Linked DNA regions of Homo sapiens: region 2 is linked to region 1. Evidence: fine-mapped expression QTL. A gene starts in region 1. The other region holds a variant in brackets. All regions are shown on one strand. Distances are from middle to middle.

The links.
Region 2: its variant is fine-mapped to the expression of ZHX2 in monocytes (Fairfax 2014, PIP 0.95).

What each region holds. Positions count from the first base shown.
Region 1 is chr8:122,773,780-122,787,487 of GRCh38, reverse strand. ZHX2 (zinc fingers and homeoboxes 2) reads right to left here and starts at 5,833. Exons shown (of 4, transcript NM_014943.5): 1 at 5,542-5,833. ZHX2-AS1 (ZHX2 antisense RNA 2) reads left to right here and starts at 5,884. Exons shown (of 2, transcript XR_007061082.1): 1 at 5,884-7,315; 2 at 9,291-9,604. RefSeq lists enhancers at 1-58, 3,982-4,516, 5,172-5,221, 6,389-6,888, 6,889-7,390 and 1 more and silencers at 3,842-3,921, 4,702-4,831, 5,052-5,121.
Region 2 is chr8:122,965,340-122,981,723 of GRCh38, reverse strand. It overlaps ZHX2 (zinc fingers and homeoboxes 2), which reads right to left. Exons shown (of 4, transcript NM_014943.5): 4 at 7,214-8,482. Among named protein-coding and RNA genes, the nearest start is that of DERL1, 69 kb to the left of the region's middle. RefSeq lists silencers at 10,551-10,600, 11,521-11,620 and an enhancer at 10,871-11,280. The variant T/C (reference allele first, on the strand shown) is at 8,256.

The DNA of each region.
Region 1 (13,708 bases):
ATATATCACAAATCTCTTACACCACAGTGAATGCCTGGCTCACATTCCTTCATATTGACCCCTCATGGATCAATAGCACAAGAATTTCATTCACTGCAGATTCTGTTATGTGTTAAATACCATTGCAGTGAAACAATGTGTAACAAGATTAATCTCCACTAAGTGTTTCTAATGTTAGGGAGTAAGGGGGAGAGAAAGAGGAAGAAAGGGTGTGAACTGTGACTTTTAACAGGTAAATATTGTCTACCAGGGGGGAAAGAGAGGTATCAGCAAGAAGACAGGTTCTGGCCCTGGTGTCTCTATTCCATTTTAAAGTTTGGGTGGAAATTGATATACTGTTGTCAGGACTGTTTTTCTGCATGGGGTCTGTTTTACACACACACACACACACACACACACCACTGCCAATCAACCCCTCTTAACTGCATGATTACAAGTGTAAGAACAGGAAGCAGACTGTGGGTGGATGTTCTTAAAATCACAACCTGCTCAATGTAGGGTGGGGGCATTAGAGAAGGGTGGGGGAGGGGAATCACGAGTTTTTTCAGTTCAAAATGAAATAATCTTGTCAATACAGAAAATAATGTCTACCTTATTGTCTACCAAAGGGGCATGTGCACAGCCAAGCATCCTTCCTGAGATGTGCTGTCTGGATGTGGCTATGACACAGCACATTACGGTACCTCATGTGCTGGTACCGTACGTGTGGTACCTGATGTGTGGTACGGACTTGCCACAAAATGAGTGCATGTGTGTACTGGGGGTGGGGGGAGGCAGAAGGGGAATGGCAATGAGATGGGACAGTCAGGGTCCTGGGATTGATGATGAAATCCACACATGCTAATTACTTGGCACCTCAAATTTACAATAAAGTCACTTTCTTGAGGTGGTTGCAGTGATGACGGTGATTTGTTGAGCACAGTTCACATGTGAGGTGTGTGCTAAGCCTTTTTACAACTTTCTTAAGTTTCCTAACAACTCATACAGCAGCTACTAAAGTGATCTCCATTTCAGAGATAAGAAAATTGAGGTAAGTAACAGCTCAAAGTCATAAAGGTAATACCCTGAGCAAAGAGAATCAGAGAGGCTGGCCCTTGCTGGAGGAATCTAGCCTGGGGAATCTGGTGCTGGGAAGGCCTCTGACATGCTCTGATATCATCTCCTTGATTTAAAGCAATGGTGAAGGTCATGGCCAAAGGTATCCTGCTGATGAGTGGTGGAGCTGCAGCTAGGGCCCAGGAGACCCAAAGGTCAGGAAAAAGGCAAGTGTAGTGTTTGGAGAGTAAATGGCACCCCCTTCCAGCTTTTCCAGTCCCACTAACTGAATTATCCAGAAAGGAGAGCTGATTGCCTCCCTGTAACAGCTGACTCACATCAGGTTAAGTTTGGATTCTTATTGACAGGACCTAAAAGCAAATCATCCCTCACTTCTTTATTGTACATGGTCTTCTCTTTGCCCTGAGGCAAAACTGTTCCCTGGCCTGAAACTTTGCAGAACTCGTTTTATTGCAAATAAGAACTAAGCTCGTTTGTCTGCACAAGGTACTCTGCTGTCAGTCTTAGTCTTCCCTTCCCCAAACACGTGACCTTCAGAAACCTGCCATAGCTCCCTAGTACCTAGAGATTAAAAGCCAGCCTCCTCCATGTGCACCCCCAAGCCTGGCATCATCTCTTTGCACAGCCTTCCCTGCATCCCCCTCTCCACCTCCCCAGGGTACCTGTCCACTGCTCCCAGGGCCCTTCTTTCTCAGGCGGCACATGCCCTCCCTGCCAACTCAACAACCATTCCTCCTTTCACCCCGTCTGCCTTACAAGTTGAACCCCAATTTGCTCATGACAGCAATGGGTCCAACTAAAAATACTTGACTGCTCTTCCCTGGCAGTAGTCACCATGTGGCACAGCTCTGGTCAATGAGCTAAAGACAGAAGTCCCTGAGAGGGGTGCCCCTTCCCAGATATAGCAGTGAAGCTGTACTGGGTAAAAGCTCTTTGAGACTCATTCATCCTTTTTTCTCTTTCTTGGAATGCAAACCTGAGGCCTAGAGACGTAGCAGCCACTTTCCTACCATGAGATGATAAACCTAAGGCCAAAGGCCTCCACTCTAAGCATGGCAGTGTAGAAAGAAGTAGTCTGGGTTCCCAATGGTACAGCTGAGGCATCATCTCCCTTTACCCCTCACCCCGTTGTTGTCTGACACAAAAAAGTCCCTATCTGGTTAAGTCACTGGTAGTCAAGAGTCTGCTGCTAGCAGCCGAATGCAGTGATATTGGCTACACCTCTGGACATTGTTCCTCTTCATTCATGGGGCAGTTCAGCTGCTCCCACCTCTAGGAGATCCTCTGTGATCCCCTCAGAGCAGAAGAATCATGCCTTTCCTTGTGCTTCCACAGTGGTTAGTTTTCTCAATCATAGCACTTATCTAAGCCTGCTTGATTTGGTTTAATGAGTGCTTCCCCGCAGTCGGCTCAAACTCCTAGAGGGCAGGGGGTGTGTATCCCACCAGCATCTCCATAATGTCTGGAGCATGCAGTGCTTTGCGTTTCTGCCAGGGGGGCTCTGTCTCCCCAGCATTTCCATACATCTGGTTATGCGCTCTGCATTGCAACAGCAGAGTGTGTGTGTTCTGGGGGCTGCCACTCCGCTTACTAGCTGTTTGGACTTGGGCAAGTTAGCTAACTTACCTGGGCTTGTGCCTCCTCATCTAGAAAAAGGAGAGAATGAGAGTACTTACATCAGAGTTGTCATGAAGACAAAATAGTCTAGTCATAAGCACTTGGGATAGTGCCTGGCATACAAAAATGCTTAATGGCTATGGGTTCTTATTAGTATAATGAACATTATAGTTGCTGAATGAATAAATAAATCAACACACAGTTGCTAAATAAATGAATAAAGGAATAAAATCCAGGTAAATTCTGAAGTTCGGACCTCAGGACAGTGGCTACTGTTCCCTCTTTTCTGCTGGACCTGACCCTTTACTTTTTTATTCTAACTGTGACGTCGTGTATCTGAATGCTGCTACAATGGACTGGTTAAGGCTATGAAGTTAGGCCTGGATTTGCTTTTTGCTGTGTCGCTCAGGCAAGTTTCTTCACCTCTTGGAGCCTCTGTTTCCTCAACCATAAACGGAGGATAATAGTAGTACTTAGCTCACAGGATTGTGGTGAGAATTAAATGATAAAGCACGTAAAATATACAGCATTGTGCCTCACACACCATAACAGTGTTAGAAACTGTTATCAAACATTGCCATGATTATTTTTGATAAGTGTACAGCATCCCACCAAATCACATGGTCCTGATGTGGATGAGAAACGCCGGGTGGGGCCACCTTTCAGCATGTCAAGATACACTGCACTTACATCACAGGAATACCCTTTCTTCAGTGCCAACAAACAGTGGTGTTTTCCCCCTTCAAATGGACATTAGTTGAGATAGCTGATGTGCCCCAGAATCTTGGTTTCTTGCATTTTCCCCTGAAGCACAATCTTCAGGTGCATCCTTTAGCTGACAGCAAACCTGGCTAGAAGGAAAGGTACAAGTGCGCAAGAGAACAATCGCGGAGCAGAGCATTTAAACAGCGATGATATTTCCACACATCACCAGTCCAATTATTGTCAGTGACACATTTCAGCCTTACTTGTAGATTTTTTCCCTTCTGGCCTTAAAAGAAGCTGTGTATACAGCTTTACATAACTTTCCCTTTAAACTTAAACCTTTATGGTAGTCCCATTCAACCACTTGACAGCTCCATTAATCTATTTTTACTATTAAACATGCCATTTTACAAGATATTTATTCCACTTGGTCGTCATCCAAACGCTTTTTGACATTACTGCCCTGGGAGTGAACTGCTTAAACTCGCTGCCCTCATAAACAGAAAATCACCTTTTGACTCAAATCTTGAAGAGCTCTCAGAACCTCACCCCCTTCACTTCTACAGGCATTAATTTCTGCCATATATAAAGGAGAGAGTGAGTAAGTGTGTGTGTGTGTGGTTTTAAGAGGGTAATTGTGGGAGGTCTGGGCAATTCAAGAAGTGCTGGGGGAAGGAATCCTCTCCTCTAACTCCATTCTGCTCATCGGGGCCTGCCTGAGACCTGGAGATCTGGTAACTTAACAGAGAGAAAGTGATCAGAGAGCAGGTTGGGGAAGAACTCCAGGGCCTAAAAGGCAGTGTCCCAGGGGGCCAAGCTGAGCAACCACTCTTTAAAAGGGGAGGGGTCGAGGGAAAGTCCTTATTCATCGACTTCTCTCCTTCTCCACGCCCCAGACAAACAAAAGGCCACCGCGAAACAGTTGAAGGTAGAGACCTACTGGCTTTGAAGACTATCAATCAGGTGGAAACCTGAACAAATCACAATTTGGCTTCCTCATCAAGTTTTCTCCCCAGCCTGACAAACCCTCCTCCGCCGCCGCCTCCACCTCCTCCTCCGCCTCCCAGGCTCAGCACAGCTACGAGGCCAAAGGGACCGTCCTGTGATGCCTGCTGGTTTCCAACTTTCCGCTCATCTTCGTCTCCGCAGCCTCCTGCAAAGCGGCTGGGAAAAGGGCAAGTTTGCAAAGCCGAGGATACAAGTCCTGGGGAAGCCACAAAGAAGCTGCAACACCAACAAAGATTAACCTCTTGTGGGGCAGACGAAAAGCGCCAGCTGCCGTTCAGGGGGGCGAACGTGGGCTCGGGCTGGCAGAGGCTCCGGCCAGCTGGCAGCGGACAGCAGGGCCGGGGGTCCCGCGGCCGCCCTCGGCCCCCCGCCCCGCGCGGACTCCCCCTGCACCTGAGCGGGGGTGAGGACAGCGCCGCGCTCCGGCCCTGCCCCCGCCAGGTAGCTCGGCTGCCGCCCGCGCTGCGCGCCCGCTGCCTGCAGCCGCCGGGAGCGACGAGAGCAGAGGCAGCCTCGGCCCACGGCGTCATGCTTCCTGCCACCACATTACGGCGAATCGTCACCGGGAGAGGGGAGCGAGGGGAGAGGGGGAGGGAGGGGAGCAGACACACGCAGCCCCCCGCCTGCCAAAACGCGCGGAGACGGGGCCACGTCCCGGTGGAGTCCCCGCGGGACCTGCCCCGTTTGCACAAAGCGCCGCAGTTTGGCCAAGAAGGGAGGGAGACGGCCACGAAATAAATAAATAAAAACAGTCGGGTCTACGTAACGCCCTGTCGAAAGCGGACGCCATATTTTTTTGTGGCTTATGTCGACATAGGGAAACGTAGACATGTTTTTCCTCCTCCTCCTCCTCCTCCTCGCTCTGGCTCCCATTTATCCAAACTTGTAATCAAAACTCTTAAAAAAAAAATCTTCTTCCCTCTCTGTATCCGCTCATTTCCTCCCACCCGCAAAAAGAGCCTGCACACCCCCCCCCTTCCGTACCCCCCTTCCAATCACAAACCCGGCCAAGTCCCATTAACAACACATTTTCGGGAGCCGCGGCGGCGACGGCGGCGGTGGGAAAGTTGGGCTGGAGTGGCCGGCGCCCGGCGTGCGGGGTTTGGGGCCGGCGGCGCCGGCTGGGGGGCTCCGCGCCGAGGCGAAGTTTCTTACCTGCGCTGGGGCTGTGAACGCGGGGACCCGGGCTGGGAACGCGGAGACGCGGCACGGGCGTTCCAAAATGGAACTCTGCTGGCTCCCCCCACCCACTCCCCACTCCCCACCGGGCGCCCGGCTCGGGCTCCGTGGGAAAGAGGGGGAAAGCCAGCCTGCCAGCCAGACAGACAGACAGAAAAAGCCCCCGTACGGAGAACGATGGCCAAAATTTTTAAAAGAAAAAAAAAAAGGAAAAAAAAAGGGAAAAAAAATGCCTCGATCAGTGGGGAATCTACGCCAAAACCCACATGATCTGTAACGTCAGCATGCGTATTTGCATACGATACCACCACCCGAGCTGCCACCCGGGCTCGGGTTCCGCAGAAAGTTACAAAGTGAAATTCAGCCCCCTCCGGAGACACCGGCGAAATGTCATTTTTCAGGCAGGAGCTGGGGGGGAGGCTAGCCCTAAAGGCGCTGGTTACTGGCCAAGGTAGGGGGGCAGTAAATTAACTTAAAAGTCTGAGCCCAGTAACGGACTCGGTGGAATTTCTGCGAGAAGAGGAGGGGGAGGCGCGAGCGAGATCATTGAATATTAAGCACGACCCCGCGCGGCGGCCGCGGCCAAACCGTCTCCGTGCAATACCCATTTTCTTTATGAAAAGTTCAAGGTGTCACTGATGAGCTCAACAAACTGTTGATCTTGACCACGTGGAGTGGCGGACCGTGGGACCGAAGGGCGCGCTTGCAGGCCCGGCTCTGGCGGTACCCGGGCCCCGGGACCCTTTGCGTGGGACTGTGCGCGGGTGGGGCCACCACGCACCCTGGGCGCTGCCTGCGCCTTGGCCCGGCTTCAGGCTCAGGAAAATAATAATAACGATTTTAAAACTATGTTGAGCGAGACACATTTTACTCCCGGAATGATAATGAGAAGGCTCGGCGTAGGGAGGGGAAGAAGGAGCCCCCCACTTATATAACGACTTGAAGTTATATCACTTTTGCTTGGGGAGATTCCGGGATTTCCGCCCGCGCCAGGTCTGAGGCTGGTTAAAGATCTTCAAACTTTTTTCCCTTAAGAGCCAATAAACAAACAGACGCCCCAGGGGCCGACTTAAACTCTGGTAGAGCCCGAGTTCGCTGGAATTCTCAGATTCGAAGAAATGCACACGCCTGCGGTGCTCGCAGAGAAGTCCCTCGGAAGCTAGGCGGGTCGCTTTCGCAACTGGGACTCCAATGTTCCCAGTGGGAGCGGAGCTCTCACCGCGGCAGCCCCCAGGTTCCCCTAGGCGCCTTAGAGCAAAGGTGGCGGGGGATCGCGCTGCCCTTCGCCCGCCGGCTCGGAACCATGAACTTGTATTCCGGGCGCCGCGCTCCTGCCACAGTGCTCGGCTAAAGAGCTCTAAGGAATTCGGGATCTGGGTACACTTCGGGATCTCAGGCGGCAACCTGTCTGCGCCGCGCATTCCTGCCCAGATGTACCTTGTTTCCCCCTGGGCTGGCCTGTGGACTCTTGGGCAGCTCCCGGGCGGGGACGAGGGGATGCGGTCTGGGGGCTAGTTTAGAAGCTTCGAGCGCAGCGAGAAAACAAAGGGAGCCTGGGGCTGGGAGGCTCTGCGGAGTCCCCGCCCGCCCTGCAGATTAGCAGGCGCGTCGCGTCGGGGCTTCCCGGGCAGCTCTGCTCTGGGGAATTAGAACGAACTCTAGCGGCCGTTTGCAACTCGGCTGTGGGCGCGAGGGCATCAACAGGTGGCCGTGTGCAGCGGAGAGGCCAATGGCGAGGACCCGGACTGGGGTGAGGACGGCTGGCCTTGGGGCTGACTGGGTGGCGGATGCGCTGGGTGACCTTTTGGCTTTTTCATTTCCGAGGCCGGGGAGAAGGAAGTAGCTAAAAGGTTTTTGTAAGTTCTGCCCTAGGGCTCTAATTTCTGACATACCCCTTGACTCCCCAGAAATCCTTTGCAACAAAAATTAAAACAGCTCATATGCAAAACTTTCTTAATGGCCTGCACCTGTTTGTTCGGTTATTGCTGATGTAGGGTCTGTTTGTTTGCATTTTAACCGCCCATAAAACAAGATTCTATCCTGGGAAGGAGTCTCTTGCGTGATGCTCGCGGACCTGAAAGGCGACCTGGAGGGGCTCTTACAGGATTCTGTTAACTTCTTGATGACTGTAATCCAGCTTGGGCCACATCTTTCTCAGCCTCATTTGGTACCGGCTAAGAACCTAATTTACTTGCCATCAACATCAGAATTTACCGCTGCCTGATCTCCTCCCAACCTCTGCCTCACCCAGGGTGAACCAAAATTGTAAAAAGAAAAGAAAAAAATATGGGACCCTCCCCCCATTCCCCCGCCTTGTCCCGTCCCGCCGGCCACACCAACTTCAACATTTTTACATCGCTTACCTTATTATGCCCCTTGCAGGCTATTCCACGCCCTGCCCCCCCCCCCTTTAAAATAAGTCTAGTTCTGTCTGTTTCCATGGAAATTACCCAAACCTTAACGAAGCTATTCCTATTTTGAGGCTGCACCTCCTCTGGATGATCAATCACTTAGGAGGGTTTTCTATAAGCCAAGTTTCCCTTGCTGCCACCTCACTGCCACCTGCTTCTGGCTGGGTGACAGATTGTATGTAGGGTGGAATGGGCCAGGTGGGAGGGAAGCCAGGTAACCCTCTAAACAGTCTGCTGGGTTCTCATATCTTCAGAGCACTTGGATCTCATGGACACTAGCAAGGATGAGGGGCTTCTGATGTGTTGCAGTGTTTTAAAATTGTTCAGAGTTTAGCATGGACTGAACTTGCACCATATAAAGAGAAAACAATGAGGAATAAGACAAAGGTGGCTTTTGCTTTATGTGGTATGATCCCTGTTTGCTTGAAGTATACTCATGGAGTAGACAGACCGTTATCTGACAGTATTTAGGAGCTTCAGAATCAATAATGTTGGACAAGTAAATGTTCAGCCAGGAAGTAACGTATGCCACTTTCACTTACAACTCATTGGTCAGAACTAAACACAAAGTTAACTGTAAAGATCCATGGAAGTATTGTGTGCCTGGAAATGGAGAGAATGGGAAAGATTTGCACTAATATGATAGCACTAAGGACTATCATAAATAATAATAGCAGTTCACAATTATTGATCATTTACCATGTGCTGAGCCTTTTATATGTATCATCTCATTGAATCATCACAAAAATCTATATTTTGTCTTTATTTTACCGATATAGAAACTGAGACTTAAAGAGCTTAAGTACTGTACCTTGCTCGACATCACACAGATGCTAAGTAATGGAGTTGGAATTTAAGCTTAATTTTACCTGCTTCCCAGAGAATAGACTTTTAAAACACTGTCCTCAACCACCTTTGGACTTAATTGGTCCCCTGTTGTTGGGCATTGGGTAGTTTCAATTTTATTCCAATGAACAACCTTGTGTCAGATCTTTTGAATCATCTGCGATTACTTCCTTAGGATAAATTCCTAGGTACATATTTGCTTAGTTGAAATATACACACATTTCAAGAATAAAAACCTTTTGCAAAAAGTGAAAGCTTTAGGAGGTGTGGTAGTCTTCTAAGATGGCTTTTTTCAATCCTTTCCTTCCTTTTTTGAAAAATACATCACCATTAAGAGGTGGAGTTTACTTCCCCTCCCTTGGAATCTGGACTGGTCCTGTGATTGCTTTGGATGCAATGAAAGTGATATTCTGAGACATCTAAATCCAAGTCTTAAGAGACTGGCAGTTTCTGTTTCCTTCCTTTTAGGGTCCTGCTGCCATGCTGTGAGAAGCCGAAGTTTCATGGAGAGGCCACATGGAGTGAAAACAAAGGTGATAGGGACAATAGCTCCACCTGAGATCCTGATTAATACACAGACTTTAGCCATCTTGGATGCTCCAGCCTAATCGATCTCCCACTTGACTCTAGTCTCACCTGACATTATGTAGAGGAAAACCATCCAGCTCCACCTAGTCAACCCACAGAATAATGAGATGATCATAAGACTGTAGTTGTTTAACATTATTAACTTTTGGGGTGGTTTATTACACAGTGATAGATAAATAAAATGGGAGTTATTATCCGTGTCTTTATTTGCACATATATCTGAATATTTCAGATCTACTTCCCCCTGAACTCTGCAGGGTATAGGTAGCATTGTGAAATATTGGAGGCCAGGACAAGGGGTAGAGAGGCCTCTTGGTCCATGATGCCTGAGCTGGCCCACTCTCCAAATCAAAGCTTTTCTTGATTTTAGTTGTTGCTCATGAAGGATCCCGCGCCACAGGTCCCAGATCCTAAGCAAATAAGAACTCATTTATCAAGCATAGATACTCAGTAGGTACTGGAGTTAAGTTCCTGTTTGGTGTTGCCAAAAACAGAGGTTTCCATTATTTAAGGATATACACTGTGATAGGGAGTGCAAGTGCCCACCATGTACATGGCTGCCTGGGAGGTGCTTCTTATACTTTATGTAATTTAATCTTTTAAACAACCTTCTGAATAGTATATTGTCTCCTTAATTTGTGGGAGAAAACAAGTTTATAGAAGCTTATGAATTATCCATGGGCCATACAGCTGATAAGTTAGAAGCAGGTCTTGAGCCCACATTTGATTGATTACAAATCCTGCCTGCTTCCCACTATACTTGTGACTTGCAAATTAACTCATGTGCAAACCCCCTTCACCAATTTTGTCCCAGTAGCAAAGGAACTACCTATAGTATTTTTAATTTAACATTTTATTTGGCCAGGGTCATGGCTCACACCTGCAATCCCAGCACTTTGGGAGGCTGAGGCAGGTGGATCATTTGAGGTCAGGAGTTTGAGACCAGCCTGGCCAACATGGTGAAACCCCATCTCTACTAAAAACAAAAAAAAATTAGCCAGGTGTGGTGGTGAGTGCCTGTAATCCCAGCTACTCAGGAGGCTGAGGCAGGAGAATCGCTTGAACCGGGGAGGCAGAGGTTACAGTGAGCCAAGATTGTACCACTTCCAGCCTGGTGACAAAGCTAGACTCTGTCTCAAAAAAAAAAAAAAAAAAAAAAAAAAAGAAAACATTTTATTTACATTGATTCACATTTTTAAAACTTAAATGCACTTATTTCATACTAATACTAAAGAAGCCTTTTGTCACAATAGAAACAAGAAAATCCAATATTGAATTTTCAAATGAACCAATGAAAGGTAACAGTGAAAATAACCATGGGAAAAAAAAAACAGCACTATTGAGCTAGCTAGATACTCTTATTTGCAGAAGGTAGAGATGGAGGGGAAAGGTGTTAGAAGGTTATTAGAGACAGGGTAGCACCAAACTGAGAATTTTTTCTTGAGCTAATTAAAAGGATGGGAAGAGAATTGAAAGTTGTAACTTTCTCTGAGTCAGAGCTATTTTGTGCTGTACCTGGACATCATTTAAAACCATCTCATGGCCACACATGCTACTTAAGCGGTACATGTTTCACACTGCTGACACCTGGCTGCCTGTCACAGTTCTTCATGTATGAATCTATTACAATGTTGCTCCCTCTGAGAGCATAAGAATCAGTGCCACGGGTTGAAGGGCTGAATGTTTGTGCTCCCTTGCCCCCCAATTCATATGTTGAAATCCTAATCCTCAATGTGATCATATTAGGAAGTGGGCGGGGCCTTTGGGAGGTGATTAGATCATGAAGGTGGGGCCTTCCTGATAGTGATACTGGAGTGCTGGGTAGAGAAATGTGGGTCCCTGGCCAGGGCTCCACCCCTACAGACCTAGGTGAGGACAGGCTTTTGTGAGGACTAGGCTAGGTGAGGACTCCTGCTTTTGTGTCTAAACGTTGCATTTTCCAAGACCACCCTGGCCCGCCACACCCTCATCCTGGTCCTATAAAAACCCCAGACTCCAGCAGGTAGACACAGGCAGCCAGATGAGAGGGGCAGTTGGAGAAGATTTGGGCCGCTAAGCAGCCTGACTCCAGGGGAAAACCATCTCCCTTCTGGCTCCCCCATCTGCTGAGAGCTACTTACACTCAATAAAACCTTGCACTCATTCTCCAAGCCCACGTGTGATCAGATTCTTCTGGTACACCAAGGCAAGAAACCCTGGAATAAAGAAATCCCTCTGTCCTTGTGATAAGGAAGGGGGTCTAACTGAGCTGGTTAACACAAGCCGCCTATAGACAGCTAAACTAAAAGAGCACCCTGTAACACACACCCACTGGGGCTTCAGGAGCTACAAACATTCACCCCTAGGCACTGCCGTGGGATCGAAGCCTCATGGCCTGCCTGTCTGTACACTCCTGTAGAAGTTTGAGTAGCGGGGCACTGAAGAAGCGAACCACACCCTCATTGCATGCCCTGCGAGGGGGACAAGGGAACTTTTCCCATTTTAACGGGATTGGTGCCCTTATAAAGGGATACACCGGAGAGCTCACTTTCTCTCTCCCTGCTTCCCTCTAAGTGAGGACACAGCAAGAAGATGGCCAGGAAGAGAGCTGTCACCCAAACCTGATCATGCTGGCACCCTGATCTTAGACTTGCAAGCCTCCAAAACTGTGAGAAATAAATTTCTCTTGTTTAAGCCACCCAGTCTCTGGTTATTTGTTCTATAGCAGCCTTACTTAAGACAGTTCAAGGAACTTGAAATTCTGTAAACACCAACTAACTGATTTCCCTGGCTCCAATTTCTATGTCTACTATCCATGCTGTCACCAAAACACATATCTTGCTTGGTCACCTCCTTGCTTACAATCTTTTATTGCTTTCTACTTCTTTGGGGTAGCAGAAGTGATCTTGCATAAACTTGTCCAAATCAGCATTTCCAGCCTAGTCTTCTGCCTCTTCTAATCTTGTCTTCTACAATTTAGCATCACTGGGTTCCTTGTCACTCCCTACATTTTCCATGATCTTTTCCATCTTTGTAAATGGTGCACCCTGTACCTGGAATGGCTTCCCTCTTCCTCGGTCCTTCAAGACACAGATCAAATGTCACTTTCTTTAGGAAGCCTTCCTGTACTCTCCCAAAGAGTTAATCCTGCCACCTCTGAAGTCCTACAGAACCTTGCACTTAACCTTGAGTTAGCAATTATTGCCCAATAATCTAGTTACTTCTCTGTATTTGTTGTATCCATTTTACTATAAGTCCCTTGTGGATGAGTATTTCGCCATAGTCATCTCTGTGTCCTTGTTTCTTGCCTCACATGGGATATATAGCAGGCAGAATTCAAAGATGGCCCCCAAGATTCCCAGTCCCTGGTTATTCAATCAACCATGGATGTAGGCATTGCTGTGAAAAGATTTTGCAGATGTTGTTAAAGTGCCAAATCACTTGCCCTTGAAATATGGAGATTATGAAGATTATTTGGATAGGCCTGATCTAATCATATGAGTCCTTTAAAAGCAGATAGGTTTCTCTGGCTGGTGGCAGAAGGGAAAGTCAGAGACATTCAAAGAATGAGAAGGATTTTACACGAGGGAGGTTTTCTGTTGCTAAGATGGACCTGAGAGCCACTTCTAGAAACTGAGAGCAGACCCTGGCTGACAGTTAACAAGACACTTGGGACCTCAGTCCTAAAAGCACAAGGAAATGAATTCTGCCAATAGCCAACAAGCTTGAAAGAATACCCTGAGACCTAGATGAGAAGCGCAGCTCTGATTGACACCTTGATTTCAGTCCAGTGAGACCCGGAGCAGAGAATCCAGTGAGGCCATGACTAGATTTCCGACCTACAGAAATTGTGAGATAGTGAATTTGTGTTGTTTTATGCTGCTAAGATTTTGGCAGGTGTTTTTTCCATAGAAATAAACAATTGATAAAGGGTAGATGCTGAGTGAATGTTTGCTGAATGAGTAAGTGAATGAAAACATGCATCATTCAGCAGCCATAGATGACATTTAAGGGGAACGCCTTTCCCCACTCCTGGTTTCCAGGAGGAGGGGTTTTCTCCAGAGGATGTTTCTGCTTCTCTCTGACTCTGGAAGTGTCTGGCTCAGCTGCACCCTTCCTCCTCGGGGCACTCCCCTGAGACCCTGAGACTCCTTTGTTCTGCGTCTTAGCGTTGGTTGGGGCACTCCCAGCCAGCAGCACTGCCTGCACCTGTGTGGGTATGCCAGTCTCATTCTGGGTTGTGTATTTGCAGCCCACATGGCTAACAGATGATATTAGTCAGCTCAGGCTGCCATAAAAAATGCCCAGCTGGGTAGCTT
Region 2 (16,384 bases), 190 kb before region 1:
TTAATAGATTTGTGGTGGAGCATTGTGTTAAGTATCATGAAGACCTGACCAAGTCCAGCAGGCGAAGGTAGTTTGATTGATCATTAATATCTGCTGTGGGTGTGGAGTGGGGTATGACGGCAAGCTTAGTGTGCATTTGGCATCTTTTGTCCATCCCTTGTCCCTTCAAGCCAGGCTTTCTGCATCTTCCCTTGTTAGTTTTTCTAAACCCTGTTCACACCTTTATAAAAATCCTTTTTAATAAACCACTCCCAGTTTACCCATTGTAAGTGTTCAATTTCTTTCCTGCAAGGATCCAGATTAAGGCAGTCTGTAGTGCTTTGGGGGCTTGTTATGGATGAAGGTTTCAGAATTACTGGTGAACATTTTGGTCTCCCTCTGATTTTAAGTTTCTCAAAGTCAAGATCAGGATGCCTCCTACACTCTACAGGATACTCAACTTGCAGCATGTCATGGGATGTGCTCATGAAGTGTTTTTTATTCATTTTTATCGATCAACCCCCTTCCCCTGCCCAGGGCAATGATAATTTTTCTGCTGTGCTTTATACGTATGTCCAGCTGTGAGATGTTGGAGACAGGAGCTTTCAGCGATTAGAAGGAGGGAGCTGACATCTTTCCTGGTTCTCTCTGGGTTGCATTGTGACAGGTCAGTGAGAGCTATCCTTTCCAAGCACTGTTGGTTGGAAGTGGCTGTGCACCAGGTGGCCTAGAAGGACAAGTGTGTCATCAGCTGGTGGACCATGCTCTTTCTGCCCTGTTCTTCCTCTGCCTCCCTGTTCCCAGGCCCTAGGGTCTACCCTCTGCAGACAGGCCAGTGATGTATTATTAGACTTGCCACCCATCCCTTAGTGTGCTGGAGGAGGTTGGGGAGGAGCCATTTAGTGTCTTCAGAGCTGGGTTTCTTCAACTTTACTGAACATACGAATCATCTGGGGATCCTGTCAAATTACAGAATCTGATTCAACAGGTCTGGCATAGGGGCCAAAGATACTGCATTTCTAACAAGCTCCCGGTGATACCTATGCTGCTGATTCAGGAGCACATTTGAATGGCAAGGACTAAGAACCGCACCATCCAATACTGAAGCCACTAGCCAACATGGCTATTTACAATTGCTGTCTTTCCTTTCATTTTTATCTCATAATTTCATTAACCCACCAGAACTCTTTGAGTTTCTGGTGACAGAAACCCAACTCAAAAGATTTGAAGCTTAAGCTAAAAAGGAAAATATGTTGGTTTTTATGAAACTGGAAAGACAAGGAGTTGGCCTTAGGAATGGCAGGCTCCAGGGATTCACATGATTATCAACATTGTCATCACCACTGCCGTCATCACCGCCACCATCATCATCCCTTGCTCCATCCTTTATTGCTCCCTTGCCTCTTGAGTTTGTGGCCCCATTCTCTCTACTTAAGGACTGGCTTCCTCTCCCTGGCAGGGGCTTTGGCCACTGGTGGTTCCAAGCTAACATGATTGCACTTACCATCTAAATGGGAAAGGAAGCTCTTCCTCCCAGTATCTGACTTGGTGCTGTTTGGGTCTTATGCGTGGTACTGTACCTGTCCCTGAATAGGGTACTAGAGTGCCGTGGGTCACTGCTGTAGATCGGAGAGTGGGTCACCATGATGGGAAGCCCCAAGAATGAGATGAGTGGAGGGAGATATGAGTACATCCTCAAGGAAGAGAAGGAGTTCAAGAGGTATAGGGCAGACAGAAGCAGCAGCAGATGGTCGCTCCACCCCACCACTCTCTTCCACCTCACCAAGAATCCTGCCCCTCTATTCCCCCTAAGAACCTCCTTCCTAGTTTCTGCCACTCTTTAATCATTTCCAGTGGAGGAAGATATCTTGACATATTTTGCTGGGTGTTTAAAAGAGCACACCCATCTTCCCATTGTATTTTCATCCCCATCAATTATCAAGGCTTTCTCTTTGGGTCCTTCAAGCATTTGATAGCATCTCATACCATCTTGCTCGAAAGATTTATTTAAATTGCCTTGGAGTGGCAAGCTTAAGCACAAGGGTGGTAAATGGCAGGAGGGGAAGGCAGCCACCTGTCAAGGGAGAGAGTGTTGGAAATGTTCATTAATGGGAGGGAGGACAAGACAGTATGTGGGTGATGAGGTCTGGGGAAGGTTCAGGTGCTGGGGGCACAGGCAGGGAAGGCAGTGCAGGCAGGAACTGGGAGATGAGTTAGCCACAGCAACTTTAACTTTTTTTAAAGAAAAGTGCAGGTTGGAATTTTGGAATGTTTGTGGGTTAGGGAAGAGTTTGGGGGTAGAGGGTGCTAAAGACAGCGTTGGCTACATATGGCAAAGTCTCCAATGCCAGAAGCACATGTCTGGAATATCATTTCCTAGACCTGGATCCGACTTCCTCCTGGCTGCCCTTCTCACACAAACTTCCTATCCAGGGATGGAAAGGCACAGGTATCACACTGCTTGGGTTGATGTCACTCCCTGCATAGAGCGGTGGGAGGGGAATGGACATTTGTAGAGCTCTTATTGTGTGTTGAGTATTTTGCTCCCATGCACTCAGTTAAACCTCACACCAAACCTATTACGTGAGTATAATCATCTCCAGGTCTCAGATGAGGAACCAGGGCTCCAACAAAAGCTAAGTAACTCCCACAAGATCACCTAACTGGTCAGCAGTAGAGCTGTGATTCAAACTCAGGCTGTTTGACTGCAGAGCTGGCAGTCTTCATCCATCCATCCATCATCCGTCTATTCATAATCTATCCATCATCTACCCATCTATTATCCATCCATTCACCCATCCATCCATTAACAAATATTTATGGAGCATCTACTTTGTGCCAGATGCAGTGCTAGGCACAGGGGATACAGTGAGGAAACAAGATAGATACAGTCCTTACTCTCATGGAGCTTGCAATATAGTGGGATGAAGAAGGCAAAAAACAAACAGATACATGACGATATGTTGTGAAAAGCAAGACGGAAGATAATGAAGCATGGTTAGAGAAAAGCATGAAGGGTAGGCAGGGTCAGGGCTAGAGTGAGGCACATGAGGCACCTAGGATGAGAAATCTTGGCAGGCACCCACTTTCAGGCTTCTGCAAGTGCAGGGTTTGTCACCTGCATGACCTTTCTGCCTTAAACTTTGCACCCTTAGGTGCGTTCCTTGACTCACCCTAGTCCTACCTCTGCAGACAGGGGGTCACGGAGGGCAGGTGACACTTGAGCAGAGATCATAACAGAGAGATCAGGTGCTCTTAGAATGGACCAGGTGGAGTGTGGCATCTGGAGTGTGAGCTTTGAGAGGGACTGAGAAGAGTTCATTAGGGAGAAGACATCCTTGCATCCTGCCTATGCCACAGACTGGAGGAGTGCAGGGGACTGAGAAAGAATGAGGAAGTGGTGAGGGAGGTCTGAGGATAGACGTTGATGGAAGGTATCTCCAAGGCAACTGGAGCTCACAGTCAATGGCTGCTGCAGGATTGCAAGGCTTCTAGTCAAGGACAAGAACTCTCCAACAACACAAATGTGCTAGATGCTGATATTCATAAAAAGGGGGAGGGAGTCTGTCCAATCCCTATAATTTTAATTTGGGTCAATCCATCCATGCATTATGCACCCAGGAATAACAATGGCAACCCTGAGAATTTAATAGATACGAGGAACTATTCTAAATGCTTTCCCTATACTGACTCATGGTACCTGCCACGATATGAATAGACACAATCATTATCTCATTTTACAGGTGAGTGAACTGAGACACAGAGCGAATAAGTGACTTGCCCAAGGTCATACAGCTAGTAAGTGGCAGAGCTGAGATTTGACCTCAGGCAGCGTGACTCGAGCCTGTGCACTTAGTTGCCTTACCTTCTGCTTCTTGATGTCACTGGAACTCAAGAGGAATAAAGACATACCTGGGCCCACTTCGCTCATGGCAGAAGGCTGAAACTCACCTGTTGTCATCCTTTTGACTCAATGTGGACTTGGGGCCCTTTGCTCAAGACCTCTTTCTTTGTCTCCCATTTCTCATCTAGTGGGTCTGACACTCCAAATAAGCCCTCTTTAGATGTGATCTTGCACTCACCTGCCAGTCCTTCCATTCTATCTACTCCAGGACCCTCTCCTCTGTGATTCAGCCCCTGCAGCCCCTGAGAGCACCAGTCAGGGAGACTGAGGCTTCAAGACTATATTGATCATGATTTTTGGTTTTAAGTTCCAAAAACCCTAGTAAACCAGCTGAAAACATAAATAGTTCATTCTGGGCTCATGTAACTGGGGAGGGTGGAGGTAAACTTGACCTGAGATTGCTCTATCCTTGATATCCACTCTCCCCTTCTTCCTTTCAGATACAGAGCCCCTTCTCTGTTGGTTCTTGGCCACCTATCCAGAGCCTACATCCCCAACTTTCTTTCCATTGAGGTGTCACCATGTCTAGGTTTTGGCCAATAGGATAGGAACTGAAGTGACCAGTTTCTGTTTCATGACCTTAAAACTGAAGTTCTTGCTCTCCTGTTTCTCAAGGGCTGGAATGTAGAAGTGGACTTTTGGCCACGTGGATGAGGAATTGAAGCAGTCAGTTCTGATCTAGAGATGGAAGGCGCCTGCTGAGGACAGCAGGGCTGCTTGGCACCCTGGGTCCCTGAATGGCTCTGTGGAGCACTGCCTGATGGCCCACCCTGGACTGTTGCCTGAGACAGAAATAAACTTTTATCTTGTTTCAAACACTGCATTTTGGTGTTTCCTTGTTCAAGCAACTTATCTACTATGCCATATTCCAACAACTGTAATACTAGCAAATATTTGCTTTTCTCACTGAGTTTTTATGTTTTGTAGAGAGACATCCTCCCCATGGCAGAGAAAATAGCTGCAGTCAGCCCCAGGCCCACATCTTTCTTTTTTTTTGAGATGGAGTCTCACTCTGTTGCCCAGGTTGGAGTGCAGTGGCGCGATCTTGGCTCACTGCAAGCTCCACCTCCCGTGTTCACACCATTCTCCTGCCTCAGCCTCCTGAGTAGCTGGGACTAAGGTGCCCGCCACCCCGCCCAGCTAATTTTGTATTTGTGTTTTTTAGTAGAGACGGGGTTTCACCATGTTAGCCAGGATGGTCTTGATCTCCTGACCTTGTGATCCACCCGTCTCAGCCTCCCAAAGTGTTGGGATTACAGGCATGAGCCACTGCACCTGGCCTGGCCCACATCTTCTTAATTTAGCTACCTAAGCAGAAAGAATGAGCTTTTTTTCTCTTTACAGCCATCTCTCAAGAAGAGGCTTGGTTGGCCCTGCTTGACCCACATGCCATCACTAGGGCCAGGGGACGGGAACTATGATTGGCTAGGCTTGGATCATGTTGCTTGAGCAGGTCTGTCAATAGTCACAGCACAGCCTCATGGAATGGGGAGGGCAGTTCCCATAGAAAAGAGGCTGCTTTTACCAGAAGCAGCAGGTAAGGGACACATAATAGGCAAAATTAGTAGGCTCCCATGACAACCGCTTAGTATCTGCATGTTCTTGGGCTTGTTACAAAACCTAAGCCTCAGTTTCCTCATTTGCAAAATGGGGGCACCTATCTCACAGGGTTGTAAAGATAAAATAAGAAAATGTATGTAAGGCACTCAGCGCAAAGCCCAACCCATAATAAGTGCTCAATAAAAAAGATAGCTATGATTTTTACTTTTATTTATTTATTTTTGAGATGGAGTCTTGCTCTGTTGCCCAGGCTGAAGTGCAGTGGAGTGATCTTGGGTCACTGCAACCTCCACCTCCTGGGTTCAAGTGATTCTTGTGCCTCAGCCCCAGTAGCTGGGATTATAGGCACATACCACCACACCCAACTAATTTTTGTATTTTTAGTAGAGACAGGGTTTCACCATGTTGGTTAGCCTGGTCTCGAACTCCTGGCCTCAAGTGATCCGCCCGCCTCGGCCTCCCAAATTGCTGGGATTACAGGTGTGAGCCACTGTACCTGGCCTATTTTTATTTTTGAATCGCTGTCTACATTCAACTTTGCTGAGTGGTAAAGAGAATTAGCGGAATTTTGGAGAGGTGTAAAGTTATGGAAAATCTATGGCCCCTGCTCTCAGCTTGGGGGAATCGACAAGCTGACCAAATGAATCCGAGAGCTGTGTGGTGAGGGCTATGTGCAGAGAGGGTGTCATGGGAGCCCACAGGATGGGGGACTGAGGGAATCCCCCAGAGAAGGCCAGGCCCTTTTGAATCTTGAATTTTTCAGTGTTTCCTGTATTTTGGGAAGTGGGTCTTTCCCGTTATCTGTAGAATAAACACATGCTAAGTTTAGATAAACTGGCCAAAAGTCTGTAAGTTCCCGTAAAAATGAACCATCTAGACCAGAGGTTCCCAAGGTGAGGAACTTGTTAGCAATGCACATTCTCGGTTCCCACCCCAGACATGCCGATCAGACAGTCTAACCAACCTTCCAGGTGATGCTGGTGCCCACTCATGTTTGAGAACCACTGGTCTAGACGAGTGTCAGGTGTGAAGAGTGAGGGACTCTTTAAACCTCACCAGGGCAGAGATACTTAAAAGCCACCTTCTCAGAGAAATGGCAGTGCCCCAGCTACCACTCGCCAGCAGCCCAGGGAGGGGGAGCGACTTAGCTCAGGTCATCCAAGGGCGAGCCTGTGCACAGAGGGGCTTCTCATTCCCACTCTGAAGCTCTTCTCTTGACTATTTTATGAATCTATTTGTGAGACCCGGGAGAAGGAAGGGCCTATACCTTCCTTCTCTGTGTCGATGAGATCTGCTGAAGATTCCTACAACACTTACATCCAGTTTTTTTTCGGTGGGGGGAGGGAGGGGACAAAGTTTCACTCTCGCTGCCCAGGCTGGAGTGCAGTGGCGCCATCTTGGCTCACCGCAACCTCCGCCTCCTAGGTTCAAGCGATTCTCCAGCCTCCTGAGTAGCTGGGACTACAGGTGCACACCACCACACTCAGCTAATCTTTGTATTTTTAGTAGAAATGGGGTTTCACTATGTTGGCCAGGCTGGTCTTGAACTCCTGACCTCAGGTGATCCACCCGCCTTGGCCTCCCAAAGTGCTGGGATTACAGCGTGAGCCACTGCGCTGGGCCTACGTCCCATTTTTAAAGTCCAGTTTGCGATGTCAGATCCCTCCAGGATGGAAAATGAATTTGAAACGGGAGGTATCCAAGTCAGAACCCTTACACCAAGCCCTCGGGAGCCAGACGACAATAAAGAAGGCGAAGTAGAGGAAAAGGTTATAAAAATGTTTAGTCTTTGCTTTATTGAGTTACAACAAATGAGCAACAAGTTAGAAAAATTGGTTTTATTCAAACTTCCTAGCGTTTGACTTGTGCGGTGTACTCAAATGGGGGGCAGTGTGGGACGGGGAGGGATTGCAACCAGAGTTCATACTGCAACACGTACACCAGATATGTCTCTTGGTTTTCCTTCTTTTAAAAGTTAGGACTAACTGAAAAAGTGCACTCAGGTATCTAAAATTGTCCCAAAACAAACACACACACAAACAAAAAAAATCAATTCATGGTGAGGCTTTGAGCTAAAATCTTGTCAAATACCACACCGAGAAAAGGCAGTGAAGAAGAGAAATGAAAACCAAAGCCATTCACCTCTGTACCCTCCAGATAGGAAGATCTTATTGTTGTTGTTTTAATGTCACAATAGTACTGATCATGCTAACAGAGGCGGGAGCCTCTTCTGCTGGTATTTAGAAAGGTGCTTAAAGAAGTCAGCCACCTGCTACCCAGTTCTCCCAGGGCTGGCTGGGCACAGCCTGGCCCAAGAGGCCGAGCAGTTGAGAAGCCAGATCCCCTCTTGGCAGTTCAGAAAGCCTTGTGTGGGGCTAAGGCAGGGACCCCCAAAAAGGCAGCCAGGGGAAGAACTGGAAAGGAATTTGATTTGGAAGATCTGCCGTCTGTCACCTCTCTCCAAGTTGAGACAGGGGCCTGGATTTCAGCCCTTCCTGCCGAGAAATCTCCCAAATTTCAACCTACCTTTAAAAATAAAGTCTCCCTACTTAAAATCCAGTAGATATCATGGCACTAATGCTAACACCCCTTTCCCCAAATTAATAAAACAAAAATAAAAAAAAGAAAAAGAGAAAAGAGAAAAGCAAGGTGGTTAGCCCTCCCTCCTGAAAAAAACCTTACAATGGTAGTGCTGGAAAAGGAAGTTGCCCTTGATTAAAAAGGTAACAAAATTCCCACATTGTACAAATCGGTTCCAGTATAGCAAGAGGTGAGGGCTAGGGCAGAGGAGCAAACTATGTACAAGGACCCA[T/C]TGAAAACGCAGTAGTAGGACTTTGGCACTATGAACAATTCCCACCGGTCCTCTGGGAGGTGCGTCTGAGAGTCGCTGGACTTCCCGCACCCTCCAGGCACACGCGAGCTAAGTAGTTCCACTTGGAGTCACTGGCAAGGGTGGCCCATGGCTGGGGAGAGACCATCTCTTCTTTCTTCAAAGACGGAGCGTCCCGTTGATCAGCACAGCAGTTCTAACAGACTTCCCTAGAAGACACAAAACCACAGAGTCAAGATGTCAGGCAAATGACCATTGTTCCCTGGGGGGAAGGCATCATGGTTTGCTTCTTCCTGGCTCTCCTGGGTTGGGGTGGGGGCCTTCCAAAGTCATCCTGGGGCTTGGAAGAGAGACACATGCCCTTCATGTACGGGGCCTGTTGTAAAGAAACGAGTGTGTTTTCTGAGCACAGTCCGCCATAATAGGAAAAGCCTCCAGAATCAGGCCTTTGAAAACAGAGTGACTTTCTGGGCAAGTGAAGGTGGTGGCCTGTGATTCTTTTCATCCTTACAAGACCCTTTTATTATTCCTAGAAAGTCAACCAGTCCCAGTGGCTCCTAAAAGGCCCTGGAGTCAGACAAATCTGGATTTGGGTCCTAACTTCTCCCCTTAGTGGCTGCAGGGCTGTACCTATAGGACTTGATCACTCTAGGGCTTAGTTTTTGCTTCTGTATAACAGGGATGACACTAGCACCCACCTTAGAAAGTTGCTGCGATGATGCCATGCGTTGATGTACACAACAGTATTTGGACTAGTGCCTGGCACATGGTAAGTATTGTAGATACTTCTGCTGTTTTTATTAGATGGAGCCTTTTCCAAACGTGGTAGGATATAGAAGAGTGATAAGATGAGGCATTGTAAATGTGTTTTTATTTAATGTTTATATGAATTCTAAGAGGTGTAAATATTATTATTATTCTTATTTTACAGTTGAGGAAACTGAACATATAGGGGCCTAATAAGTTTCCCAAGATCACACAGCTAGTAAGTGGCAGAGCCAAGATTCAAACCCAGGTAATCTCTAGAGTCCGTGCACTTAATAAACAGAATTATTAAGAATCAGTAGGAAGAAATGTTTAATTCTTATACCCTTGGAAGTAATGAAAATAGTCCAAGGACCTTATTATAGGTGGAATGGTGTCCCCCCAAAAGTATATATTGAAGTCCTGATTCTCAGTACTTCAGAATGTTACCCTATTAGAAATGCCTTTAGAGAGGTAACACAGTTAAATCAAGTGAGAATGAGGCCATCAGGGTGGACTCTAATCCAACATGACTAGTGTCCTTACAGAAGGGGGAAATTTGGACACAGAGACAGATGTGCATAGAGGGAAGATGTGAAGACTCACACACAGGGAAGAGACCATGCGATGATTGAGGCAGATATTGGGCTGATGCATCCACAAGCTAAGGAATGCAAAAGACTGTCGGCAGACACCAGAAGCTGGGAGATGGGCACAGAACAGACTCCTGCACAGCCTTCAGAAGGAAGCAACCATCACAGACTCCCTGATTTTTGTCTTCTGGCCTGCAGAACTGTGAAACAATAAACTTCTATTGTTTTGAGCCATCCAGTTTGCAATACTTTGTGGTAGGTAGAGGAAATGGGGGCAGGTCTCCATCATTACTTTTGTCTCCTCCCAAGATCTAGAGATCCTGGGAAAGGGATCCAAGCAAGGCTCAGGTCTCTAGAGGACACAGCCAGTATTCCATGACAGGCTAGAAGTTTTTCAGATCTGTAGGTTCTCGGAGCCACTGGCCTTTTCTTTGCCTCCCTCCTGGTAAGGCTGTTTGGCTGAGAAAGCCCTGAGAAGGAATTTTTTTTTTTTTTTTTTTTTGTACAGGGGCCAACAGCAAGGAGAGTGGACTTCTCAGCCAGAGGCATCAGCTGATCATCGATAATGCCATTCATGCCTAACATCTGGATGTTAAACGCACCCACATTCCCTAGATGCTCCTGGGAGTAAGATTGAATATTGGAGTTAAGAAACCAATTTATAAAAGAAAAGTCTGCAGATAAAACCAGATTCCAGGGGTGACCTTAGAATCTGGACTACCTAAAAGTCATCCAGCCAGAGTCACCAAGTTGTAAACACTGCAGGGATCCTTATAGGTGATGTTGTCAAGATCACTCATTTCACCAGGAAAAAAAAAAAAAAAAGGAAGCTCAGGAGGAAAAGTGCTTTCTCTTAGGCCAGGACCTGCTCAGTGGCATGGTCAAAAACAAGAATGATCATGACTCTCCCTCCAACAGTGAGAGTAGCTAGTTTCTCACACCAGGCCCCATGCTAAGTGGTAATACGGCTCATCTCATCTACTCCTTACAGTGACTGGCAGGTGATTGGCAGACCCACTTCATAGCGAAGAAATGGAGGCTTAGAGAGATTAAATGTTGTGCTTAACATTAGGTAACCAGTGAGTGGTGAAGCCCGACTCCACCTTGGCCAGTCCAACTTCAGAGCCTCCTGATTCTTAATTGCTCCTCCCTGTACCTATTTTGGGTCCAGGTCATGCACAGCCTCTCCATGCACAGAGCTAGGTAGCAATTGAAGAGAGCATGGTGGCTTCAAAGGTAGGGGGCTGGGGCACCCAGTGAGGACCACGAGCCTTATTGCTGATCCCAGGCAGAGCCACATGCACTCCCTGGGTTGGCACAGTAGCCCACGGCCAGCCTCTGCCGGTGCTTTCCAAGAAACAGGGTTTTCCCCAGCAAATGGGGACTTCCACCACCTTTGGGAGGGAGGCTGCCACTGATTGGATGTCCCCCTGAACACTTCCAGATCCTAGGAGACAAGGCCCAAGGCGGGAAGACAGCTACCGATGTTCTTTCTCCCAACCCGGCTAAAGAACGTTGGGTCAGCACAGGACTGCAGGATGGGGTGGAAAGAGCTGTGGAGTTGGAGAAAGCTGGGATCCAGGATCTGCCACTTCCTGGCTACGTGCTGAGGTTGGTTACTTAACCTCCCAGAGTCTCACTTCCATTGCACAGAGCCCACGGGCTGCTGGCAGGGTTACAGACAGGGTGCAAAGCAAGCAGGCTGACCCCCCCATCCGCTCCCTGTGGAGTCTGGCCCATGCAGCATACTCAACAGGCATTTGTCAATGAATGGAAAATGGAAAGTGAGCATAGTGCTGTCAGAGGAGTGGCTGTGACCCAAGGGTGGTGACAAAGTCCACATTTCAGGATTGCTGTTCTATAGAGCATTGCAGTGCTTTGGGCTGTGTGGCTCTTGCTAACTCCCCTGGGCTTCTCTCAGAGTCCTATTACCTGGTCAGAGACAGTCACCCAGCAAAGGGCCAGTGCCTCATCCTAGAGTACCTCTCAGAGCCCTGGAGGATGCTGCAAGGCCATCGGACAGGCATTTCCTTATGGCCTCTGGGACATTTCTACCACGTGATGTCCAGGCTCTCGGTGAACACGTCCCAGGACAGGAACCCACTGCCTCCCACCCTCCCTTTCTGTCTTGGGGAAAACCTGGAATGTTAAGAAGTACTAATTCTTTAGCAAAATCTGCTTCTCTGTTACTTTCCTCATTGGAGAAACAAAAACATTAGAATTGTTTTCCCATGTGACAGCTTTCTGTTTCTGTCTCTCTTTAATTTTCCCAGGAGAACTTTCTCTAGGGCCCTAGGGACTTGGGAGTGAGTAACACTGCACTCCAGGAGAAAGGAAAACAAACACTGAGAGAGTGATTGATTATCTCTCCATAACATTTTTTTTGAGAGGTGTAGCAAGGTTTATTGCTCATTTGCCGAGTGCCTGTTATCTGCTAAACATTTTGTTCCATTGTCATCTGGCTTCTATTTTTGATACGGACAAACCTGTCAGTTTAACTGTAGTTTCTCTGTAGGCAACGTCTTTTCTTTCTGGTTGCATTTTTTCCCTCTTTGCCCTAGCTTTATTGACGTATAACTCGTTTGCAGAAAGCCGCACATAATGGATGTAATTTAGTGAGTTTGGGCATATGCATACACTCATGTTACTGTCACTACAATCCAGTAACAAACATAAAGTTTGCTTGTGTCTATTTTTGGGGGGGGCAGTGGGGAGGTAAGGATATAACATGAGATCTGCCCTCTGAACACATTTTGAAGTAAATATCTTCCTATTAACTACAGGCACTATGTTGTACAACATACCTCCAGAAGTTACTCATCTGTATAACTGCAACTTTACACCCATTGTATGAAAATTCCCCACATCCCCCTGCCCCATCCCCTGGTCAACATCACTCCACTGTCTATTTCTGTACTGCTCCATAATATTTCTCTCTCTCTCTTTTTTTTTTGAGACAGAGTCTTGCTCTGTCACCCAGGCTGGAGTGCAGTGGCATGATCTTGGCTCACTGCAATCCCCACCTCCTGGGCTCAAGCAATTCTCATGCCTCAGCCTCCCGAATGGCTGGAACTACAGGTGTGTGCCACCACACCCGGCTCTAATTTTTGTATTTTTAGTACAGGTGGGATTTCACTATGTTCGCCAGGCTGGTCTCGAACTCTTGGCCTCAAGTGATCCACCTGGCTTTGCCTCCCAAAATGCTGAGATTACATGCGTGAGCCACTGTGTCTGGTCTGCTTCATAATATTTCTTTTTCTTTTTTTTTTTTTCCAAGATGGAGTCTTGCTCTTGCTGCCCAGGCTGGAGTTCACTGGTGCAATCTCAGCTCACTGCAACCTCTGCCTCCCAGGTTCAAGTGATTCTCCTGCCTCAGCCTCCCAAGTAGCTGGGATTATAGGCGCTCACTACCATGCCTGGCTAATTTTTGTATTTTTAGTAGAGATGAGGTTTCACCATGTTGGCCAGGCTGGTCTTGAACTTGTGACCTCAGGTAACCCACCCGCCTTGGCCTCCCAAAGTGCTGCGATTACAGGCATGAGCCACCGTGCCTGGCCTGCCTCATAATATTTGAGTTCAAACTTTCATTTCTTTTATTGAGGGTAGGGGGCACAGTCTGATTTTTAACTAGAATTTAAAAAGGGGAAATGTGTTGGACTGGAGGAAGATTAAGCAACTTCCCAGTGGATGACAAAAACTCCGTGCCATCCCAAATTGTCTGTACACCAGGCTTGAGTCAGTTTTGGCCACATCCCGCCAAAGCTCTCCTTCCCTGCGTGGTTTGAAGGGCCTCTAGGGTTGGGGAACTTGCTGAGACCCACAGGCCAGGTATATATTCCTCAAGCTGCTTGCAGGGAGGCTCAGAGACAGTAGGAATGCCTTTCCTGCTCCTGGCCTATCAGTGCATATTGGCCAGGGGAATTTAATAGAACCAGAGCAAATGGAATTGTATTTTAAACTCACTGGGCAGATTCCCCAAAGTGCTTACATGTGTGGGTGTAGGGGTGGATTTGAATTCCAGCTCCACCACTTTTTACCTCAAAGACTTGCACGAGCTACCTTTCTGCACCGCCTTCTCATCAGCCCTAAATAAAGAAACTAACATGAAGCCCTGCCCAAGGAGAGTCTGAGCTCAGACTCGCCTAACCCTGCCCCCACCTGATGGTTTGTCTCTACCTGCCCTGGTAGCTGAAGAAAAAAGACATAATCTTTTGGAAGTTCTGTGGTCCTGTCCATTGCCTAAGAAACCCGAGTACTCATCCTGGCCAATGTAGGGCAGAATTATATCCCCTTCTACTACTGCAGCTGGCGCTTTCCTGAAAGCACCACCTCCCGGCTGGAGGCCAACCAACTCAAGCCATTACAGCAACTCATAACAGAACAACCTTGCTTCAAAGGAGCAAACAACAGCTAATGCCACTGCCTGCAACATCCTGGCTAACCAGAGGTCCTGAGTCTGTCCATGTGGCAATTTTACTGCTGGTGTAACCAGCATTTGAGAAAACCACTGCACTAAACAAAACTACAACCAAGGACTCCCAGAGTCCACTTCACTCCCATGCCACCTCCACTGGAGCAGGTGCTGGTATCCAAGACTGGGAGACCTGAAGATGGATCATATCACAGGACTCTTTACAGACATTCCCCAGCACCAGCCTGGAGCCCAGCAGCCCCACTGGGTGGCTAGACCCAGAAGGGCAATAATTACCACTGCAGTCTGGCTCTCAGGAAGCCCCATCCCTAGAGAAAGGGGGAGAGCAACACATCAAGGGATCACCCCATGGGACAAAAGAACCTGAACAGCAGCCCTTGAGTTCCAGATGTTTCCACTGAAACAGTCTACCTAAATGAGAAGGAAACAGAAAAGTAATTCTGGTAATATGATAAAACAAGGTTCTAAAACACTCCCATAAGATCACACTGGCTCTCTAGCAACGGACTCAAACCAAGATGAAATCTGAATTGCCAGAAAAAGAATTCAGAAGGTTCATTATTCAGCTACTCAAGGAGGCACCAGGAAAAGGTGAAAACCAATTTAAAGACATTGAAACAACAATACAGGATATGGATGAAGTCTCTAGAGAAACAGATATCATAAAGAAAAGACAGTCACAACTTCTGGAAATGAAAGACACATTTAGAGAAATGCAAAATACACTGGAAAGTTTTAACAACAGGATCAAACAAGTAGAAGAAATAGCTTTAGAGCTTGAAGACAAGGCTTTTGAATTAACCCAACTTGACAGAGACAAAAACTAATTAAAAAAAATGAACAAAGCCTCCAAGAAATTTGGGATTACGTGAAATGACCAAACATGAGAATAATGGTGCTTCTGAGGAAGAAGAGAAATCTTAAAGTCTAGAAAATTTATTTGAGGGAATAATCAAGGAAAACTTCCCTGGTCTTGCTAGAGATCTAGATATCCAAATACAAAAAGCTCAAAGAACACCCAGGAAATTGATCACAAAAAGATCATCACCTAGGCACATGGTCATCAGGTTATCTAAAGTCAAGATGAAGGAAAGAATCTTAAGACCTGTGAGGCAAAAGCATCAGGTAACCTATAAAGGAAAACCTATCAGATTCACAGCAGATTTCTCAGTAGAAACCCTGCAAGCCAGAAGTGACTGGGATCCCATCTTTAGCCTCCTTAAACAAAATAATTACCAGTCAAGAATTTTGTATCCAGTGAAACTAAGTTTGATAAATGAAGGAGATATAAAGTCTTTTTCAGACAAACAAATACTGAGAGAATTCACCACTACCAAAGCAGTGCTACAAGAAATGCTAAAAGGAGTCCTAAACCTTAAAACAAAACCCCAAAATACACTAAAATAGAACCTTCTTAAAGCATAAATCTCATTGGACCTATGAAACAGTAACACAGTGAAAAAAAAACCAAGGTATTCATGCAACAACTAGAATGTGAATAGAACAGTACCTCACATCTCAATGCTAACACTGAATGTAAATGGCCTAAAGGCTCCGTTTAAAATATACTGAATTGCAGAATGGATAAAAATCTACCAACCAAGTATCTGCTGTCTTCAAGAGACTCACCTAACACATAAGGATTCACATAAACTTAAGGTAAAGGAGTGGAAAAAGATATTCCATGCAAATGGAAACCAAAAGTGGGCAGGACTAGCTATTCTTATAGCAGACAAAACAGACTTTAAAGCAACAACAGTTAAAAAAGACAAAGAGGGACATTATATAATGATAAAAGAAGTAGTTCAATACAAAAATATTACAATCCTAAATGTATGTGCACATAGTACTAGAGCTCCCAAATTTATAAAACAATTACTACTAGACCTAAGAAATGAGATAGACAGCAACTCAATAATAGTGGGGACTTCAACACTACACTGACAGCACTAGACAGGTCATCAAGATGGAAAGCCAACAAAGAAACAACAGACGCAAACTACACCGTAGAACAAATGGGCTTAACAGATATTTTCCGAATGTTCTACTCAACAACTGCAGAATATACATTATTTTCATCAGCACATGGAACATTCTCCAAGACAGACCATATGATAGGCCACAAAACAAGTCTTAATAAATTTAAGAAAATTGAAATTATATCAAGTACTCTCTCAGACTACAGTGGAATAACATTGGAAATTAACTCCGAAAGGAACAGTCAAAATTATACAAATACGTGGAAGTTAAATGATACGCTCTTGAATGATCCTTGGGTCAACAATGAAATCAAGATGGAAATTAAAAAATTATTTGAACTGAACAATAATAGTGATGCAACT